Linked DNA regions of Homo sapiens. The protein of the gene in region 1 purifies or fractionates together with the protein of each later gene. This does not show direct contact. Each region holds a gene or a part of one and is shown in the gene's direction. Other genes may lie near its edges. The genes, in order: MANEA, AGRN, MAN2B1, LAMA4, ATRN and GDPD5.

What was found.
Region 2: the proteins of MANEA (region 1) and AGRN purify together in Homo sapiens (affinity purification with mass spectrometry; one large-scale study listed by BioGRID and IntAct). This does not show direct contact.
Region 3: the proteins of MANEA (region 1) and MAN2B1 purify together in Homo sapiens (affinity purification with mass spectrometry; one large-scale study listed by BioGRID and IntAct). This does not show direct contact.
Region 4: the proteins of MANEA (region 1) and LAMA4 purify together in Homo sapiens (affinity purification with mass spectrometry; one large-scale study listed by BioGRID and IntAct). This does not show direct contact.
Region 5: the proteins of MANEA (region 1) and ATRN purify together in Homo sapiens (affinity purification with mass spectrometry; one large-scale study listed by BioGRID and IntAct). This does not show direct contact.
Region 6: the proteins of MANEA (region 1) and GDPD5 purify together in Homo sapiens (co-immunoprecipitation; one large-scale study listed by IntAct). This does not show direct contact.

What each region holds. Positions count from the first base shown.
Region 1 is NC_000006.12:95,601,535-95,605,034, forward strand, and holds part of MANEA (glycoprotein endo-alpha-1,2-mannosidase), read left to right. Parts: intron 1-3,292; coding exon 3,293-3,369; intron 3,370-3,500.
Region 2 is NC_000001.11:1,026,620-1,030,119, forward strand, and holds part of AGRN (agrin isoform 2 precursor), read left to right. Parts: intron 1-3,500. UniProt on the Homo sapiens protein: Isoform 1, isoform 4 and isoform 5: neuron-specific (z+) isoforms that contain C-terminal insertions of 8-19 AA are potent activators of AChR clustering.
Region 3 is NC_000019.10:12,649,743-12,653,242, reverse strand, and holds part of MAN2B1 (lysosomal alpha-mannosidase isoform 1 precursor), read left to right. Parts: intron 1-782; coding exon 783-880; intron 881-972; coding exon 973-1,090; intron 1,091-3,020; coding exon 3,021-3,139; intron 3,140-3,228; coding exon 3,229-3,330; intron 3,331-3,500. UniProt on the Homo sapiens protein: Necessary for the catabolism of N-linked carbohydrates released during glycoprotein turnover. Cleaves all known types of alpha-mannosidic linkages.
Region 4 is NC_000006.12:112,143,068-112,146,567, reverse strand, and holds part of LAMA4 (laminin subunit alpha-4 isoform 1 precursor), read left to right. Parts: intron 1-1,634; coding exon 1,635-1,774; intron 1,775-3,500. UniProt on the Homo sapiens protein: Binding to cells via a high affinity receptor, laminin is thought to mediate the attachment, migration and organization of cells into tissues during embryonic development by interacting with other extracellular matrix components.
Region 5 is NC_000020.11:3,561,518-3,565,017, forward strand, and holds part of ATRN (attractin isoform 1 preproprotein), read left to right. Parts: intron 1-758; coding exon 759-942; intron 943-1,691; coding exon 1,692-1,846; intron 1,847-3,500. UniProt on the Homo sapiens protein: Involved in the initial immune cell clustering during inflammatory response and may regulate chemotactic activity of chemokines. May play a role in melanocortin signaling pathways that regulate energy homeostasis and hair color.
Region 6 is NC_000011.10:75,442,442-75,445,941, reverse strand, and holds part of GDPD5 (glycerophosphodiester phosphodiesterase domain-containing protein 5), read left to right. Parts: intron 1-1,446; coding exon 1,447-1,529; intron 1,530-2,655; coding exon 2,656-2,806; intron 2,807-3,360; coding exon 3,361-3,500. UniProt on the Homo sapiens protein: Glycerophosphodiester phosphodiesterase that promotes neurite formation and drives spinal motor neuron differentiation.

The sequences.
Region 1 (3,500 bases):
TGATTTGAACCAGCCTGGAGCAGAACCATCATAAGCCAGTTCATAGATTTTATGTTCGAAAAGCAAATGTTTGTCTTTTAGAGCCACTGAGATTGTGGGGTTGTTACATGGCATTATCTAATCAAAACTTGACTGAATTAAATCATTCATCTAAGTAAAAGAAAATTAGGCAGATTCAGTGATTTTTTTTTTTTTTTTTTTTTTTTTTTTGCTTAGGATTATAGGGGAAAGAACCAACTCAGCCCTGGTGATCTTCTTTCATTTTAATAAATTTAGTATGTTATTTTAAAGTAGCATATTTTCTTTCTACTTTATGCAGAAATCACATTTCTTATACTAGGTTTATCAACATCCATTATTTCTTTGCATATGGCTCTAGAGTCATTTTATCTGCTTTTCAGGCTTATGCAGATTTCAACCATGTGAAACATGAATATAAGTATGTCCGTGATTCTTTTTTAAATGATTTTCACCTACATTTGAAACATGTTATATTAGTCATGGCCTCTCCTTTTTCTTTTTCCTTGTTAAATGAATATTGTGAATTCATGGCAGAAACTTTGGGAATCTTACCTAAATCCAGTATAAGTGACAGACTTAAGAGTTTAACTGTTGTTTGTTTTTGCATGCAAATCATTAGTCCATTTATTTATGCATGCATTCATTCATTTAGCACCTGCTACGTGTCAGATACAGTCCCAGATGCTGACAATATTAAGAAGAAGGATGAAGTATTATCTCTTTCCCTAAAATGCCTTGTAATCTACTGGAGGTCAGACACAAAGACAAGTAAATTTCAGGAAGAGAAAAGTATGAGGTATTATGGCACCACATAGGAGTAGGAAGACCTACCTCAATTTTGTTGTGGCAGGGGATAGGGGAGTGTGCAGGGGTGAAGGTAGAGAATAGAGTTGGAGAAGGAGAAAGTTATCAGATTTTCATTCAAAAAAGTTCATTTTATTAAAATTTATTTATTAAAGTTATTAAAATGCAGGGTAGGGAAGAGACAGGAAAGGTCAAAATTAAAAACATGAAATGAGGGAATGTTTATATTCTTATTCTTTAAAGATAAGAAAGACATTTCATTTTATGTATAGAATTCTGTTATTTTAAAATTTATTTTAACATTGATCTAATTGATTTTTCCAAATGGAATAGAGAGATGGAGACTAGATCACATCATTAATTAAAATTGCAAAGTAATGGCCGGGCGCGGTGGCTCACGCCTGTAATCCCAGCACTTTGGGAGGCCGAGGCGGGTGGATCATGAGGTCAGGAGATCGAGACCATCCTGGCTAACAAGGTGAAACCCCGTCTCTACTAAAAATACAAAAAATTAGCCGGGCGCGGTGGCGGGCGCCTGTAGTCCCAGCTACTCGGGAGGCTGAGGCAGGAGAATGGCGTGAACCCGGGAAGCGGAGCTTGCAGTGAGCCGAGATTGCGCCACTGCAGTCCGCAGTCCGGCCTGGGCGACAGAGCGAGACTCCGTCTCAAAAAAAAAAAAAAAAAAAAAAAAAATTGCAAAGTAATTTTATTATAATTAAGAAATTAGAAATACATGAGGGAAAATTTTAAATATTTTATACTTATCAATACTATATTTACTTTAAATATATTGATCTGCGCTTTACAAAAATAGCATGCTATTTGTTGTTTGCAGCTGTAAAAGCAAATTCATTTTGATATAGGATATTTCAAGTTGGATATTGCTTAAATATGGTGTCCTTTATGTATAAAATGGAAATTTAGAAAACACAGTGATGTAACTGAAGGAAGAATTACCCAAGGAAACATTATGTAATAGTATGAAAATACCTATACACTAGGCAATTTGCTTTCAACTGAATTTAAAAAGCAAATACCAAAGTTATTGAGAAATCTAGCTGCCCTAGCAGTTACTACCCTGGCAATACTAACAATATGCTGCAAAAATTAATTTGACCTTAGTTTTTTATGACAGAAACTTACTTTTATAATATTACTGTAATCTCATTTAAAGTAGAAAATTATATTTTTTTTAAATATTATTTAACTTTAAAATTAATTATGTGAAAACAAGTAGCACTGATTAATGTAAAATACATTTTGCTTTAATTGGGTAATTGAAAACAGAGGAGTTTCATATTGCAATAGAAGTCTCTAGTTCCATAAATACATCATAGAGCCTGAAACCTAAAATTAAAACAGTATCAATACATTTATTAGACTGCCATAAAGATTTTTAGTTGATGTTGGTAAGTCAGTAAAACTAGGAATAAAAGTGAAAATCCTCATTCTTTGTTTTATGAATCTGAAATAGATTGTCATCTAAGAGAAGTATCTTCTGTATTTTTTACCTTACTAGTTAGAAGTAGCATACAGAATGGTTTTACTAGCCATAATTAGTTTGTCTTGATTTATGTATAGCCAACCTTAAGTTAAAAAATTTTAGTCTGTGCACAGTATTTTAAAAATATTTGTAATTACTGCTCTCTATGTTTACATATATATATATAATGTATGTATGTGTGCGTATATATGTATGTAGGTGTGTGTGTGTGTGTGTGTGTGTGTGTGTGTGTATGGGATATCCAAACCATAAATACCTAGGCATCATGAAAAATGTCCTTTATAACACTAGTGGATATTATTTTTAAGCGATTTCATTATAAATTCTTTAATAGAAGTTAATGTATATTATTTTGTAAAATGCTGTTTTAATGATATGGAAGAATTTATATGTAAATAAATTTGCTAATGACTTCTATTTAAATTTAAGCTTAATGGTCACATGCCTGAAAAAAATCCAGATTTTTCTGGACCATATTTTTTTGGTCTTTTTCCTAAAAGAAACATATATCTGAATATAGAGTATTTCCTATATATATTATATGGGATACAAATATGTAAGAAACATTTTTATAAGGAGTAAACATAAAAAGAAGCATTGCACAGCAGTTAAGCATTTGAACTCGGAATTCAGATCATCAATATTACCTCCAACAAACTGGGTGACCTGGAACAACTTACTGAACCTTTCTTAAGGTTCTGTCTATCTTTGATTACCTCACTAAGAAAACAGAAATACCTTAGGGAGTTGTGAAGATTAACCAAGATAATAATATAAAATGTTTAGCATGTTATTTAGCAGTAAATTTTATTGGTAAAAATTCTCTGGTAGTTTCTGTGTTCAATAAATATTCATCTTTAATTAAGGTGATTAAATCAGTTACTTTATTAAATATATTAAGTATACTTCTAATTTTACATTATAGATAATTTATCCCCTAACTGATTTTATTGTTTGTTTTAGGTTACTTTTCACATAGAACCATATAGCAATCGAGATGATCAAAACATGTACAAAAATGTCAAGTATATTATAGACAAGTGAGTTTCTTCAATATTTATAAATATTGTTATATTATCCAGTGATAATTATTGTTTTAAGAATAGTACATTAAATTATATTTGAGATTTGAATGATTTATGATTATTCCATTTTTAATAAAATTAAATTG
Region 2 (3,500 bases), on another chromosome or scaffold:
AGGAACGGACCCCCTCCCTGCAGTCCTGGTTCTGGCACCCCCTCCCCACTTGGACTGGGCTCCCCAGGGCCCCCGAAGCCCAGCGGGGCTGGGGCTGCAGACGGAAACACCGTGGTGGCCTGCCCACCTCAGGATGGAACCCCGGGGTCCCAGGAGGTGCCTGCCCCTCAGAGATGAGAAAAAGGAAGTGCAGGGCTGAGATATCACCCCATGGACAGTCGCCCGCTGGAGGAGGAGGCTCTGTACCCCTGCACCTCCTGCCTGCTGGGTGAGCTGCTGGGAGCTGCACTGGGGCTCAGAGCAGTCCTGTGCGCCCCTCAGGCTGTGGCAAGATTGTGGCTGGGATCTAGGGAATGAGGCAGGTCTCTAGCGGAGCCTGCAGCACTGAGGGAAGCCCCCCCGAAGGGGCCTCTCCCCCCAGCACAGATCCTGGGAACTTCCTCTGAGGAAGGCCCCCTGCCAGGGGCAGCTCACAGCAGGACCTGGGAAAGGGAGACGGCCCCTCCCAGCCCCCTCCTCCTGCAGTCCCCCCACGGAGCAGAGGCGTGGGAGAAGGGGCGTGCTGTGTCCTACAGGCAGCCGGCTGTTTCCAGCTGTGTGGCCTGCGTGTGTGCATGTGTTTGTGTGTGTGTGTACACGCATGTGTGTGCACGTGCCTGCAGCCTCAGATGTACCAGCCTGTGCACTTCAGAATTCTGCCTGGAGCCTCCACTAGTGGGCCATGGTTCTTACCACCCTATGTCCCTGGGTTCAGCCCGGGCTGGTGCTGCAGGTGTGAGGCTGGTGGTGGGTGACCCTGGCCTGTCCAGGGGGCCTCGGAGCTGGGCTCTTCCTCTGTCCTCGTGCACGTGTCTCGCCTCAGCTTGCTGTTGGTTGTCCACTCTCCTGCCCCCTGCTCACTGCGTCCAGCACGCTGCCCCGTGTCTGGCAAAGGGCCCAGGACCTTCTGCAGGTGCTGCCTCTGAGATGACCAGTGTGGTTTCTGAAGGTTTGAGATGAAGGCATGCTGGGTCCCTTGGGGCGGCAGTGAGGACAGGAGAGGGTCCTGGGTCACAGTCCCTCACATGCCTGCGGGACCTCGAGACTGACACAGATGCCCACCCCTGCCCAGATGGGACTCTGTCTGGGGGCAGCAGGGCAGTCTGGGAGTCAGACCAGGCCTGGTCAGGGTGGGAGCGGGGGTCTGTCGCTGGCCTGAGCCTCCCTGCCCCGCCGTTTGGCAGCCACCTTGGCCACCCTCACACTGGGCCCTAGGAGAAGCAAGCCCCTGCGTGTCCGCAGGTGGGAGGCTCCCACGCACCCCCCGCTGGAGAAGCACAAGCACAAACACCGGCCCACGGCCGCCCCGGCCCACAGCAGCTGGTGGGGAGGGGCTGTGCCCCCTTCTCTCCCCAGGGGAGGCTGGGGTGTGAGCAGGGCTCACCATGACCTTCACTGATTTCATCATCAGTGCCTTCCCCATTCACACACTCACGGTTGGCACCTCCACGGGGCTTCCCAGGGAAGCCGGGAAGGAGCTGTGCATTGAGGGGTGAAAGCCCGTGCAGAGAACCGTGGGAGAAAGAGGCTGTGGACACGGGGCGGAAGAGAGGGCTGGGGCGCAGTCGTCAGCTGCCGTGACCCCACAGCTGGGAGCAAGCTGATTCCTGCCTCGGAGCTGCCGTCTCCCCTGCTGGCCGTTCTCTCTCCCGTGGGGAAACGCCCCCCCCCCCCCCCCGCCCTGCACCTGGCTGGCGGCACCTGTGGGCACTGACCACTCCACGCCAGCTGTTTTCCTTGGTTGGGGTTGGGGGCACCGAGCGTTTGGGTGGACCGGAAGTCAGCGTCTGCATTCGAGCCTGTGTGCGGTGCATGGGCCAAGGGCGCCCACACCCACGCCACCCTTTCCGAAGGAACCGAGCCCCAGCCCCTCATGGGCCAAGGGCACCCACAGCCACGCCACCCTTTCCGAAGGAACCGAGCCCCAGCCCCTCGTGGGCCAAGGGCGCCCACAGCCACGCCACCCTCTCCCAAGGAACCGAGCCCCAGCCCCTCGTGGGCCAAGGGCGCCCACAGCCACGCCACCCTCTCCCAAGGAACCGAGCCCCAGCCCCTCGTGGGCCAAGGGCGCCCACACCCACGCCACCCTCTCCGAAGGAACCGAGCCCCAGCCCCTCGTGGGCCAAGGGCGCCCACACCCACGCCACCCTTTCCGAAGGAACCGAGCCCCAGCCCCTCGTGGGCCAAGGGCGCCCACAGCCACGCCACCCTTTCCGAAGGAACCGAGCCCCAGCCCCTCGTGGGCCAAGGGCGCCCACACCCACGCCACCCTTTCCGAAGGAACCGAGCCCCAGCCCCTCGTGGGCCAAGGGCGCCCACAGCCACGCCACCCTCTCCCAAGGAACCGAGCCCCAGCCCCTCGTGGGCCAAGGGCGCCCACACCCACGCCACCCTCTCCCAAGGAACCGAGCCCCAGCCCCTCGTGGGCCAAGGGCGCCCACAGCCACGCCACCCTTTCCGAAGGAACCGAGCCCCAGCCCCTCTGGGGCCTGCCAATTGCCAGAGAGCCCCAGTGCTCCACCCACTCCAGGCCCCAACCCCCACCTTCTGAGGGCAGGATAAGTACCTGCGGGTGCCCAACCAGAGTGTGCCTGTGTCCACACGGGAACATATGGGTGGGAGGTGAGGAGAACGTGCCTTCCCAGTGTATGGGTGGGGGTTGAGGGACAAAATTAATGTTGCACAAAGATATGGGGGATGCCCAATATCTATGCAGGCAGGTGGGGGGATCAGTGTCTATGCAGGCAGGTGGGGGGGACATCAGTGTCTATGCAGGCAGGTAGGGGGAGGGGGACATCCCGTGTCTATGAGGGCAGGTGGAGGGAGAGAATTGAGGCTGGGGCTGGGGTCAGCAGTGGGGCTGAATGGGGCAGAGTGGGGGTCAAGGAGCAGGGGTGGTGCTGGGCAGGCCAGGAATACCCATTGTGTGGCCGTGTGTGTGTGTGCAGTGCATGGTGCTGTGAGATCAGCATGTGTGTGTGTGTGTGCAGTGCATGGTGCTGTGAGATCAGCATGTGTGTGTGTGTGTGCAGTGCATGGTGCTGTGAGATCATGTGTGTGTGCAGTGCATGGTGCTGTGAGATCAGCGTGTGTGTGTGCAGTGCATGGTGCTGTGAGTGTGAGATCGTGTGTGTGTATGCAGTGCATGGTGCTGTGTGAGATCAGCGTGTGTGTGTGTGCAGTGCATGGTGCTGTGAGATCAGCATGTGTGTGTGCAGTGCATGGTGCTGTGAGATCAGTGTGTGTGTGTGTGCAGTGCATGGTGCTGTGTGAGATCAGCATGTGTGTGTGTGTGCAGCGCATGGTGCTGTGTGAGATCAGCATGTGTGTGTGTGTGTGCAGTGCATGGTGCTGTGAGATCAGCATGTGTGTGTGCAGTGCATGGTGCTGTGTGAGATCAGCATGTGTGTGTGTGTGCAGTGCCTGGTGCTGTGAGATCAGCATGTGTGTGTGTGTGTGCA
Region 3 (3,500 bases), on another chromosome or scaffold:
CCCGGGAGGCGGAGGTTGCAGTGAGCCAAGATCACGCCACTTTCTGCACTCCAGCCTGGGCGATAGAGCGAGACTCAGTCTCAAAAAAAAAAAAAAAACAAAAAACCCAGGCCAGGTGCAGTGGCTCACGCCTGTAATCCCAGCCCTTTGGGAGGCCAAGGCGGGTGGATTACCTGAGGTCAGGAGTTGGAGACCAGCCTGACCAACATGGCGAAACCCCGTCTCTACTAAAAATACAAAAATTAGCCAGGCATGGTGGCATGTGCCTGTAATCCCAGCTACCCAGGAGGCTGAGGCAGGAGAATTGCTGGAACCCAGGGGCAGAGGCTGTAGTGAGCAGAGATTGCGCCCCTGCACTCCAGCCTGGGCGACACAGCAAGTTTCTGTCTCAAAAAAAAAAAATAAAAATCCGGCTGGGCACAGTGGCTTATGTCTGTAATCCTAGTACTTTGGGAGGCCAAGGTGAGCAGATCACTTGAGTTCAGGGGTTTGAGACCAGCCTGGCCAACATGGTGAAACCCTGTCTCTACTAAAAATATGAAAATTAGCCAGGCGGGGTGGTGGGCACCTGTAATCCCAGCTACTTGGATAGCTGAGGCACGAGAATCACTTGAACCCGGGAGGTGGGGGGTGCAGTGAGCCAAGATTGCACCACTGTACTCTAGCCTGGGCTACAGAGTGAGACTCAGTCTCAAAAAAAAAAAAAGAAAAAAGAAAAATTAAAAAAAGAAAACACACACACATACACACACAAACCCATCTGTGGACCCTTTTCTGCCCAGCACATCCGGGCAACGTTTGATCCTGACACAGGGCTGTTGATGGAGATTATGAACATGAATCAGCAACTCCTGCTGCCTGTTCGCCAGACCTTCTTCTGGTAAGGGAAGATCACCAGGCCTGAGGGTGGGGTGGTGGTGCTCGGCATGGAGCTAGGGCCCCTTACCTGACTCTCACCTGCCCCAACTCCAGGTACAACGCCAGTATAGGTGACAACGAAAGTGACCAGGCCTCAGGTGCCTACATCTTCAGACCCAACCAACAGAAACCGCTGCCTGTGAGCCGCTGGGCTCAGATCCACCTGGTGAAGGTCAGGGACTAGGAATGATGAGTGGGCAGTTGGGAATGGGGAAGTTATGGAGCCCAAGAGGGTGGTGGGCCATGTGTAGAGTGAGGGTAGGGGAGGATTTACTTTTCCTTCAGATCAGTGGGCTAAGACCCACAGATCAGCGGGGGAAATATTTGAGGGTCCTTCCATAGAATTGATATTCATAGCTGGTCGTATGAGAGTCTCCCCATAGGACACATCATACAAAGCCATTCACATCTGCTGTGGACGTTTACATACTTAGTTTTGGAAATTGGGGGTGGGGCATTCCCACTTGGCCCATGAATCAGGAGAGCCAAATATCACTGCTTGAAGAATTCACCAAAGTCTGTAGTAAGAGGAGCTTCTATCTGGAGTGAATATTTGAGAGTCCACCCTTGGATTGATTGGGTTTGGGTGAGTCTCAGGGTGAATGCCTATGGGTGCATCTGGCTAGGAACAGTGGTTTCCCAGGGCCTCTCATTGATGTTTGACTTTCATAGATGACAAAACTCACATTTGTCCACATTCAAGAGCCTCGCGTTTCATGTGAGTCCCTTTGAGATGAATGTCTGCATATCTGTATATAGTTTTGCCTGTTCTAACAGAGTTACCCAAATTAACTGTGACTAGAATAAGATAGAAGATTATTTTCTTCTAACAAAAAGTCTGGCTGTTAGTCCAGAGAAAGTGGGGTGGTTCCATAATCACCCAGGACCTCCTCTTCTATCTTGTTGCTCTGCCTTCCCCAATATTCAGTTTCCACCTCATGGTCCAAGATAGCTGCTGAAGCTCCAGCCGCCACATTTGTGTTTGAGTCAGTAGCAGAGGGACAGGGGCAAGGAACATTGTTGACACCACTTGGATCACTTTCTATGGGGCAAACTGGTCACTCAGCTACTGATAGCCTCAGGGAAGACTGGACAATATAGTCTTTATCCCAGGTAGCCATGTGCCAAGCTAGAATCCTATTCTATGGGGCAATGGTGAACAGGAGGCGTTTATGCCACGCTCAAGAGTGATGTGGTAAGCCAGATGCAGTGGCTCATGCCTGTAATCACAGCACTTTGGGAGACTGAAGCAGGAGGATCGCTGAGCATAGGAGTTCAAGACCAGGTGGGAGCATTTGCTGATTAGGTGCCTACATAGTGATGCCCTGTCTCAAAAAAAAAAAAAAAAAAAGAGGCCGGGTGCAGTGGCTCACGCCTGTAATCCCAGCACTTTGCGAGGCAGAGGCAGGCAGATCATCTGAGGTCAGGAGTTCAAGACAAGTCTGGCCAACATGGATAGAAACCCCGTCTCTACTAAAAATACAAAAATTAGCCAGGGGTGGTGGCAGGTACCTGCAATCCCTCTACTCGGGAGGCTGAGGCAGGAGAATTGCTTGAACCCAGGAGGCGGAGGTTGCAGTGAGGCAAGATTGTGCCACTGCACTCCATCCTGGGCAACAAGAGCAAAACTCTGTCTCAAAAAAAAAAAAAGAAAAAAGAATTATGTGGGCCAGGCGCGGTGGCTCACGCCTGTAATCCCAGCACTTTGGGAGGCCGAGGCGGGCTGATCACGAGGTCAGGAGATCGAGACCATCCTTGCTAACACGGTGAAACCCCATCTCTACTAAAAATACAAAAAATTAGCCGGGTGTGGTGGCGGGTGCCTGTAGTCCCAGCTACTCGGGAGGCTGAGGCAGGAGAATGGTGTGAACCCGGGAGGCGGAGCTTGCAGTGAGCCGAGATCGCGCCACTGCACTCCCGCCTGGGCAAAAGAGCGAGACTCCGTCTCAAAAAAAAAAAAAAAAAAAGAATTATGTGGCGGTGACTGAAGGTTGACCTTGATGTAGGCCTTAATGGGGTTTATGGCCAGGGTTGGGGGACATTTGTAGGACTCACCTCTGCTCAGGTACAGACTGACATCCACCTCACCCGTGTGCCCGCAGACACCCTTGGTGCAGGAGGTGCACCAGAACTTCTCAGCTTGGTGTTCCCAGGTGGTTCGCCTGTACCCAGGACAGCGGCACCTGGAGCTAGAGTGGTCGGTGGGGCCGATACCTGTGGGGTGAGTGGCACAGGCTGGGAGAGGGGTGTGGAAGCAAGGGCAGAGGGGTTTATCCAAGGCTCACAACCTTGCCATCCCATTGGGTACAGCGACACCTGGGGGAAGGAGGTCATCAGCCGTTTTGACACACCGCTGGAGACAAAGGGACGCTTCTACACAGACAGCAATGGCCGGGAGATCCTGGAGAGGAGGTGGGGGGTGACTGAGAGCACTGAGGGGGTGGTCTGTGGTGTGTTGGGGCCCAGGGGTGGTGAGGGAAATTTGCTGATTACATGAGTGTGGGAGACAGAGGACGAAGGGAGAGTGAAGGGCGGGGGAGCCAGGCAGGGTGCAGTGGCTCACGCCTGTAATCCCAGCACTT
Region 4 (3,500 bases), about 17 Mb from region 1:
TGGTTCTCAAATACTAGTGTGCATTAGAATCACCTGGAGGCCTTGTTAAACAGACTGCTGGATCCCACTCCAGGAACTGCTGATTCAGTGGGCTCGGGACAGGGCCAAGAACTTGCATTTCTGACAAGTTCCTGGTGATGCTGCTGCTGCTTGTCTGGGAACCACACTTTAAGAACCACTGTTCAGTCAATGAAACTCTGGAAAAATTTATGCCATTCTCTTTGTTTTGAGTTTCTCTCATCAAGCTGTATTCTTATGACTGGTGCTTTTTTTTTTTTGAGACATAGTCTCGCTCTGTCGCCCCGGCTGGAGTGCAGTGGTGCGATCTTGGCCCATTGCAACCTCTGCCTCTCGGGTTCAAGCGATTCTCCCGCCTCAGCCTCCCGAGTAGCTGGGATTACAGGCGTGCACCACCATACCTGGATAATTTTTGCATTTTTAGTAGAGATGGGGTTTTGCCATGTTGGCCAGGCTGGTCTCAACCTCCTGACCTCAGGTGATCCACCAGCCTTGGCCTCCCAAAGTTCTGGGATTACAGGTGTGAGCCATCAAGCCCATCTGACTTGCGCTCTTTTCTATGTTTAGAAAACATAGAAGAGGAAGAAAACATAGAAAAGGAAAAAAGGTGGAAAACAATCTTCCTACCTTTTTTCCCAGTATTCCTCTTGACCTGTTATATCAGTTATATTAGAAATGCAAGCAGAACCTGTGCTATATGGTTAAAGGAACATTTGTATATATACCGTGGTCCCTGCCCTTTAGAAAAAGCCTGCTCTAGATACAATTTTTAGATCAGTAAGTACTATAAATGTCACAAAAATAGAAACAAACTGTGCTTTGGGCTTTGTTAGGTCCACGACTATGCCAAATGTCATGCTCGGGGTCAGGTTCGAGCCCATACTGAGGTCTGAGTGGAGTGGGTGGGTGGCTGAAAGAACACTTGAGGGATGTAGACAGGTGAAATATAGTTCTGTTCAGCAGCTCTCTCATCAGAAGCTCTCTCACACTGCCTGCTCTGTCTCGGCTGCTTGCTCTGGCTGCTCCCACACACAGCTGAGCAGTCGGCTTGCTCTTGCCTTCAGGGTTAGCAGCTTAACTTTCTCTCTTTCCAGGTACAAGCCAGTTCCTGGCTCCCCCATGCCTACCTTCAAGGCAACTGGCTCTCCCCTACAGGGGTCAGTAGCGTTACTCTCTCTTTGGGCACCAGCACGCCTGAGCCATGTTGAGCCCTGGCTCTCCCTCTGTCCGTCTGCAAGACAGGCGGCCTTGGCATTCTCTCTTTCTCTGGGCGCAAGAGCACGCATCCTGTGCATGGCATCGGCAGGGCAGTTATACATTTTCAAACAATAGTGGCTGTGAGCCAAGTATGAGCTTACACAAACAGGTTATATAACAAATGGAGTATGCACCTGTGCCCTAAACTAGCTGAGTCCGTCTGGCCCAGATGTCTGCCTCAACCTATTCCCTGATCAAAGCACATCTGTGTACCTTACAGGTTTTACTATTAATTTTGCAGGATTAAAAATCATTTCTCTTAGTTCTACCATATGTAATCCATGTTTATTGTCTACATCTGATTCTTGAAATATAATATTGAGTTATTTTCTTAAATGATTAATTTTTATTAACTGCAGTAAGAAATCTGACCGAGGTTGTCCCTCAGCTCCTGGATCAGCTTCGTACGGTTGAGCAGAAGCGACCTGCAAGCAACGTTTCTGCCAGCATCCAGAGGATCCGAGAGCTCATTGCTCAGACCAGAAGTGTTGCCAGCAAGGTAACTGATGAAAAGACTCATCAGTCAGTCAGCGGTAATAATAACACGAAGCTGAGCTCCAACTGCTTGGGCAGCTTCCAGAGCCTGGACCTTTCTGCTGTATTCTCCAACTCAGTAGTTCTCAGCCCCATTTGCTAATTAGAAACACGTGAGGAACACTGAAAACGAAACCAATTCCTGGTCCCAACCTGAAAGCAATAGATCAGACTCTGTAGAGAAAGGGCTCAGTACCTGTATGTTCTTTAAAGCTCCCAGGTTATTCTAATGTGTAGCCAGGTTTAAAAACCACAGAGTTAAACTAGTCAATAAAGCTAATATAGCAAAAGAAGTAAAGCCTCAATAAAAGCCTCAATTCGTTCTTATATTTTATGTTATTTTAACAGCTGCTTTAGTGCAATTACCATAATGGAATAATCTATCCCATCTGTCCTACCCCTTCAAGAAATTATCTGGTACAACACAAATTATGCAGAAGCTTTTACTGACCACCCGCAGGGTTAACTGAGGAATCACATACTGGCTAAGAGGAATAAACTCAACAAACACACTATATGTGTTTTGGGACACATATAGAAGCAACTTAGCAGAAGATAACTAGGGCTGGCATTTGTAGGAACATCTCCTGACATAGCAATTACTTTTCAATGTGGCAAAGTGGAGCTTGTTCTTGGACCTCTTGAATTTTTTTAATTGATTCATAGACCAGACTCACTTTTTATGACCAAAGTATATGGTTTTATTTTCTCAGTTAAGAATCGGCCTGAGCAGACTACTGGTCCTAATTACTGACAGAAAGAAGAGTTAGAAATCAACTATTTCGTAATGTAGAAGATTATTCTTGGTAAATAGACCTGACTTTTAAATGATGATAAATGGTCCCTTGTGACAAATTACCTTATTTAGATGCCCCAGTGAACATTTTCAAAAAAGGTTTATCTAAAGGTACATCAAGAAATGGCATTCTAAAAGCTAGGTTTTTATGAGTGCTTTCTTGTAATATTATTTCTATAAAGAGTATGACTTTGGGACCTTAATCACCTAAGACCATTTGCTAAAGACAGACTTAGCCCCACCTTTGGGAGTTGGGAGCTCACTCAGTGCCCCCAAGTGGGATGCTTTTCATGCAGACATGCACTATTCTCAGACTCTCACTTATTAATGTAAGACTTTAATCCCCCACACTGCTTGTTTATTAAGATGTATTGGTCTTGGCCGGGTGCGGTGGCTCATGCCTGTAATCTCAGCACTTTGGGAGGCCAAGGTGGGCAGATCCCTTGAGTCCAGGAGTTTGAGACCAGCCTGGCCAACATGGCAAAACCCTGTCTCTACCAAAATACAAAAATTGGCTGGGCGTGGTGGCGCACACCTGTAGTCCCAGTTACTCAGGAGGCTGAGGCACGAGCATTGTTTGAACCTGGGAGATGGAGGTTGCAGTGAGCTGACATTGTGCTACTGCACTCCGGCCTGGGTGACAGTGAGACTGTGTCTCAAAAAAAAAAAAAAAAAAAAGTATTAGTTTTTACTCAACTGATAACATAGGACAGCTGCACTCCAGTCATTTGGAAATAGAGCCTTGAGCTCACTGACCACCCACATTAGCCAAATCAATATTAATAAATTAATATAAAGATGCCTAATCATTTGGAAAGATTCAGATAAATGACATAAGTATACACAATCCATACACTTGTAAATACTCTAAAAATTATCCCTGAATCAGACCAGC
Region 5 (3,500 bases), on another chromosome or scaffold:
GAAAAAAAATATTTGCCCAGCCCTTTAGAGATTGGTTTAGTGGAGTATGATTTACCCTTAATATGAAATATTTCCCTTGGTTAAATTTCATTGTATCTGTTGTTGTGCAGTAGGAATACCAGGTATAATTAACATTTTGTGAAAGTAGGCCTATAAAATATATCTGTATATTGGTCACCAAAGGTTGTAGGGAATTAAATGTTCATTTGAGTGAACATTTTATTTATTGAGACAGGCTCTTGTTCTCTCACACAGGCTGGAGTGCAGTGGCACAATCATAGCTCACTGCAGCCTTGATGCCCTGTCCTCAAGTGATCCTCCCACCTTAGCCTCCCTAGTAGCTGGGACTACAGGTGCGTGCCACCACTCCTGGCTAATTTTTTAATTTTAGTAGAGATGGGATCTTGCTATGTTGCCCAGGCTGGCCAACATAGCAGGCCTCAAGTGATCCTCCCACCTTAGCCTCCCAAAGTGCTGGGATTACACATGTAAGCCACTTCGCCTGGCCCTGAGTGTTTTAAATTTAGTTAATTCTTTTCCTACATGGCATATTAGAACATCAGAACATAGAACAGACTGGAATTGGGCCACATGGCTTTGTTATAAGTTTTAGGTGGCTTTCTTTAAAATATAAAGATAAAAAAGTATATGTATCAGGTCTCCTGAAATCCATTCTCATGCCCTAAGCTCTTTGGACATTTTCAGTAGTAGAGAGGAGGAGCCTGCCATGCTTGCCTTTAACTGTCTTTCCTTTCCAGATAAGAACACATGGAGTATATTACACACCCAGGGTGCCCTTGTGCAAGGGGGTTACGGCCATAGCAGTGTTTACGACCATAGGACCAGGGCCCTATACGTTCATGGTGGCTACAAGGCTTTCAGTGCCAATAAGTACCGGCTTGCAGATGATCTCTACCGATATGATGTGGATACCCAGATGTGGTGGGTACTTTTTCTTGAGCTTTCACTTTAAGGTGTAAATTCTGTAGAGGCAATTGTGGAGAAAATATTGTGCTATCTTTTTGTTTTCATGCCTGGCAGATAATTCTGTTCGGCATTATATATAGAGAAATTGGGAAATAAACAGAGGGTAATAAAGTAGCTAGTATTTATTTTGTTACGTTATTCTGTAATTCTGTAGCAGGTTGGTTAGAAAATACTTAGAGTTTTTTAACAAATGTAAAGCAAATTTGAGTTACGAAATAATGTAATTATAAAGCGATGGTTTCTCCTCTTTTTCCTCACATGTTTGATACCTTGCTATGGGTACTGTTTTATATTCTGTCATAAAAATAATCATTTTTAGTAGCTGTGCAATACTCCATTTTGTGGGTATGCTGAGACTATGCAGGTGAAAGTTTTGGTTTCTTTCTAGTTTTTATGTCATTAAGAAACCATTATGCATTAAGCTTCTGTCAATATTTCACATGATTTCTGCCCAGAAACTGGAATTATATAGCTACGGGGTATGAAGAGTTTAAGGTTCTTAATATATTTTGCCAAAACTCTTACAGGTCTTTAAAATTATCTGTATTTATTGTTGAAAAACTTACTTTTATGTAGGGAAAACTCTGGAAGGATTTGTACATTTGGGTCTGAGGTTAATAAAGTGGTTGTGCTTGCATTAGCAGATACATAAATATTCTTTAAAAACTAACCTTGTATTTATTATTTCTAAATAAACTCAAAAGGACCATTCTTAAGGACAGCCGATTTTTCCGTTACTTGCACACAGCTGTGATAGTGAGTGGAACCATGCTGGTGTTTGGAGGAAACACACACAATGACACATCTATGAGCCATGGCGCCAAATGCTTCTCTTCAGATTTCATGGCCTATGACATTGGTAAGTTTCCCAAAACCATTTTCTCTTCAGGCATCTTTTTGCCTATACTATAAGCAGCATTTAAAAGGAGACTGAAAATATTGCCAGTTCAAAATGATCAGGCCATTTGAAAGAGGTCCAAATGGTATTTTTTATATTCATTTGACTAATGTTACACATCTGGTAAAAATTATTTCTACATTAAATTCTTTTTGAAATCACTCCTGTTAATTGCTTGAATGCTAATTTTTAAGGCTGAGTTGAGGTGTCTAGTCTCTCCTTTGTCATGTTATGCCTACCTGGTAGTGTTACATAGTTGCAACCACCAGCATTGTGTTAAAATTGGTTCACGTATTAGCTTTATCTCATTCCCTAGAAAACTGGTTTCTCACATGGTCTTGGTGTGGCAATATACCAGACCAGAAGAGGGCAGTATTTGTTCATGCAAAGCAAATGCATACCGGATGATCTCTTTCATAAAAATTGTCAGATGTTCATTTTAAACAAATTATTATTTTTTTGATTGTGGTAAAATACACATAAAATTTACCATCCTAACTATATTTAAATGTCTAGTTTAGTGATACTAAACACATTCATAATGTTATAAATCCATCACCGCCATCCATCTTCAGAACTGTCTTCATCTTGTAAGACTGAAGCTGTATACCCATTAAACAATAATGTCCCATTTCTTCCTCCCCACAATGCCTGGCAACCACTATTCTACAGTCTGTCTCTGTGATTTTGACTATTCCAAGTCAGACATTCGTTTTTAACAGACATTTGTGTGCCAGCCACTCAGTTTGTACATTGAGGAGATCAGATGAATAACTTAAAGCCCTTAGCCTCAAAGTAGAAGAGGTAGAGAAATGAGCAGACAATAGAATTGCACTTCAGGGTGTTTCTGGCTGAAAAGAATGTATGAGAGCACCTCTGAGTACCCTTTAAGTCATGGAGGGTAGAGTGATAAACAGGGAACACTTTCTTAAGGAGGGGCCATCCTCTCTGGGTCCTTGGGGACACTAGGTGTCAGGTAGGTGAAGTTAGGCAGCACTCTCCAGGCAGAGGAAACCCAGTTTGCAGAGACACAGAGGTGGAAAAGACCGGCACATATTTAAGGGCTCAAAGAGTGAGACACTGAGTGTGAGGTTGGCATGGTATAGCAGCACCAGTTGGTATTAGATCCAGAAGAGAAGTTGCTAGTATGGGTCACAACAAGGGAAAATTAATCAATCTATGGGATCTAGGAAAGGACTTTGTAAAAATTAGGTGACATTTAAATTTCTTGAAATTTCATTTTCCACCTTTATTTTTCCATTTTAGCTACTAAATTTGAGCAAATCAATATAGAAAAGAGTGGAAAATAATTATGAAACCCATGTTTTGCTGACATAAGCTTTGTAGAATGTAAAATTTGCTTGCTTTAAAAAACATTCTTGGCTGGGCGTGGTGGTTCATGCCTGTAATCCCAGCACTTTGGGAGGCCCAGGTGGGCAGATCACGAGGTCAGGAGATTGAGACTATCCTGGCTAACACGGTGAAACCCCATCTCTACTAAAAATAAAAAAAATTAGCCAGGCATGGTGGCAGGCGCCTATAGGCCCAGCTACTTGGGAGGATGAGGCAGGAGAATGGCGTGAACCTGGGAGGAGGAGCTTGCAGTGAGCTGAGA
Region 6 (3,500 bases), on another chromosome or scaffold:
AAGAAACTCATTACTGAGACCCTGCTGTGTGCCAGGTCCTGGGCTAGGGTCTGTGACTTTTGTTATCTCACCTGTGAGGTTGATAATGTTAGCCCATTTTACAGCTAAAGAAACTGAGGCCCCAGCTCTGTGTCTGGGAAGTGAAATTGCACCTTTTTAGTCCGTTCCAAAGCCCTCACCACTCCCTGGCTCCCCAGTGCTAGGCTGTGTCACAAAAGAGGGGAGTGGCTGGGGAACATCGTGGCCAGAGGGAGAGAAGGTGGGAACAGGATTGTCTTCAGTGGGAATGAATGAGATCAGCCATGGGAATCCTTCCCACCTCACCTCTTCACTGACAGAGCAGGGCAGGGGGATCGGGGGTGTCCTCCCTCCCTCCTTCCCTCCGACCATCCCTCATGGACCTGGTCTTCGCCCAATCCTTGGTTTGGTGCTGACCCCCAGTGGCAGCAACGGGTATGACAGTCCTCAGATGAGACCCAACTAGGGAGGCTTGAATCCCAACTGTCCTAAGCATAAAGACCCTCATGAGTACACATCTCTAAGGGGCACATGGGGAAACTGAGACCCACAGAGAAATATACCCAAAGTCAGGACAATAGTTAATGGCAGAGTCAAGGCTAGAACCAGAGCTGGGTGTGGTGGCATGCACCTGTAGTCCCAGCTATTTGGGAAGTTGAAGCGGGAAGATTGCTTGAGCCCAGGAGTTTGAGGCTGTTGTGAGCTGTGATTGTGTCACTGCACTACAGCCTGGGTGACAGCAAGACCTTGTCTCTTAAAAAAATGCTAGAACCAGGATCATGTAAGGGGAAAACAGTTGCTATTTATTAAGCACTTACTGTGTATATCAAGCAGTGTGCTAGAGGCTTTTAATTCACGTAACAGTCCAGGGAGGGAAATAATGCTGTCATGTTTATATAGATGAGGAAACTGGTCCCGCACTGAAACTCTACCATCCCATCTACCCTCTCTTCCAGGTCTCCCCCCTGGACTTGTCTCAGGGTATAACCCTTGGTATAACCAAGGGTATAACCTGAATTTCACATTCAGCCCCAGCCCAAGACTGCCAGAGAGCCACAGAGGACTGTAAAAAAGCCCTCCAGCCCCAGTGTCTAGCTCAGTGCCTGGGATAGAGCAATGATAACATAGTGACCATAGCTACCATGTGTCAAGTGCTAGCTACATGTCAGGCATTTATATGCATCAACACTAACCAGCCCTGCCTCCCCCGCCCCCAGTAAAACCAATGAGGTAGGCATGATTTAATAGATGAGGAAGCTGAACTTCAGAGAAGCTGAGTGGGTGCCCAGGGTCACACAGCTACTCTGTGGAGGGGCCAGAATTAGAACCAGGCCTAGCCCAGCCTCCCAACATGAAAGACTTTCCATTGGCTGGGGAGGGTACATCAGCTGAATCTTGGCTCTCCCTTCACCACCCCTTCTTCCCCAGCTGGCTCCAGAGCACACGCTCATGTCCTTCCGGAAGGCCCTCGAGCAGAAGCTGTACGGGCTCCAGGCTGACATTACCATCAGGTAGGTGTAGCGGAGGGGAGATAGTTCCTCTACCCCTCCCACACGCTTCGGCATCCACCTGGGTCTCTGCTGGGGGAACCTCTGGTCTCAGAGCCTCTGAGATGGGAGGAGGAAGACTTAGATTATCCACAGCAGGGCAGGCACCCTGTTCCTGCAGACTCCAGGATGTAAAATAGAGGAAAGAACAAATGCTCTTGGTGCAAGCAGGAGCACTGCCACAGAGCCACTTGAAGGGAAAAATAGATGATAGAGCTACAACACTCTCATGAGGGAAATAAAGCAAGTTGCAGAGTGATACATTCACTGTGACTCCAGTTACGTTTTAAAATACCACAAAAAAGTGACATATACACTTTCTCCATGTACATATATAAGTAGATATTAGTATAAATGGCAGGAAGAATCCATACTAATCTCATAACAGAGGTTATCTGAGAAGGGAAGAAGGGCAGAACTGTCATATATAGTTGTACAGGTTGCATACTGAACAAGGGCATCACATAAATGAGGACATTGTTCCCAGTATAGACATAGAATTGTGTGTTTATCACAACTTTCTAGCAGATGGTGGTAAAATGCCTTGAGGAACAGAGGGCACAGGTACCTTTTACTGTTTCACACTAAGGCACCATATGAGCTATTTGCAACCCTGGTAGAGTAGACAAGGATTGGGGTTGGGTGGAATTTGCCAAAGAGGTCTACATTTGCACTGTTCTCATCATAGCATCACAGGGATTTGGTTCCAAACTGGGTTCCACCACTTACAGGCTGTGGACCTTGAGCTAGATACTTCCCTCTCTCAGCCTCAGTTTCTCCATTGTCAAATGAGGCAGCACCTACCTTCCAAGGTTGCTAAGAGAGTAGGTCCAGATTTTTCCCAGCCCTCCCTCCTTGGCAGTCCCCACCCCCATCTGACCCTCACAGAGAGCCAGAAGGCATTGGACCTTCAGGGTCACCCACCAGCCCACTGTCTTCCCTGTGCAGATGGGGAGACTGAGGCCCAGAGAGGGGCAGAGCCAGCCGGGATCCTGTGCTGGGTGGGGAGGACTGTGTGGGGTGACGATCATTGGTGGGCAGGTAAAGGATCTGGGGGGTCACTGACTCGGTGGCCCCACCCTCCCTGCAGCCTGGACGGCGTGCCCTTCCTCATGCATGACACCACCCTGCGGCGCACCACCAACGTGGAGGAGGAGTTCCCGGAGCTGGCCCGCAGGCCTGCCTCCATGCTTAACTGGACCACCCTGCAGAGACTCAACGCTGGCCAGTGGTTCCTGAAGGTCTGGCTGCACCTGATCCCAATCTTAGGCATGGAAAACACCAGCAGGGACTGCAAGGAGTGAGAGGTGCAAGGGTGGCCATCAGCTTCGAGACCCCCACTCTCAGAGCTTTCGCGACCTCCACCCAAGCTGCTTAGTGGCCTCCTAGGCTCCTGCCACTGCTGCCAGACTCATGGTTGTCACTGCTTGTTCTGGGTCCATTTCCCTCACTAGAAAAGGTTGACAGGGATGAGAGCAGTGAATAGAATTCTTAACTCTGTAAAACTCTAGAGAGGGGTTGGCTCTCTGATCTGAAATGCTCTAGAAGGAGAAATGCTGTGGGTCTGGGAGCGATTCCAAGCAAGCCGTCCTCCGTCCTCTTGGTAAGCAGGGTGTGGGGTAGAAAGGTTAGGGCTGGGGCCTCCTACAGCCTCCACATGGCCACAGCCATCAATCTGCCTGACCCCAGCAGACTCTGGCAGCCCAGGGGTCTCCACGCTTGGTTGCCAGAAGGGTATGTGGGGGCCCCCAAAGGGCTGATGATGCAGCCATGTGTGTGTCCCTGTCCCTGCCAGACTGACCCCTTCTGGACAGCCAGCTCCCTGTCACCCTCCGACCACAGAGAGGCCCAGAACCAGTCCATCTGCAGCCTGGCAGAGCTCCTGGAGCTGGCCAAGGGCAATGCCACACTGCTGCTCAACCTGCGTGACCCGCC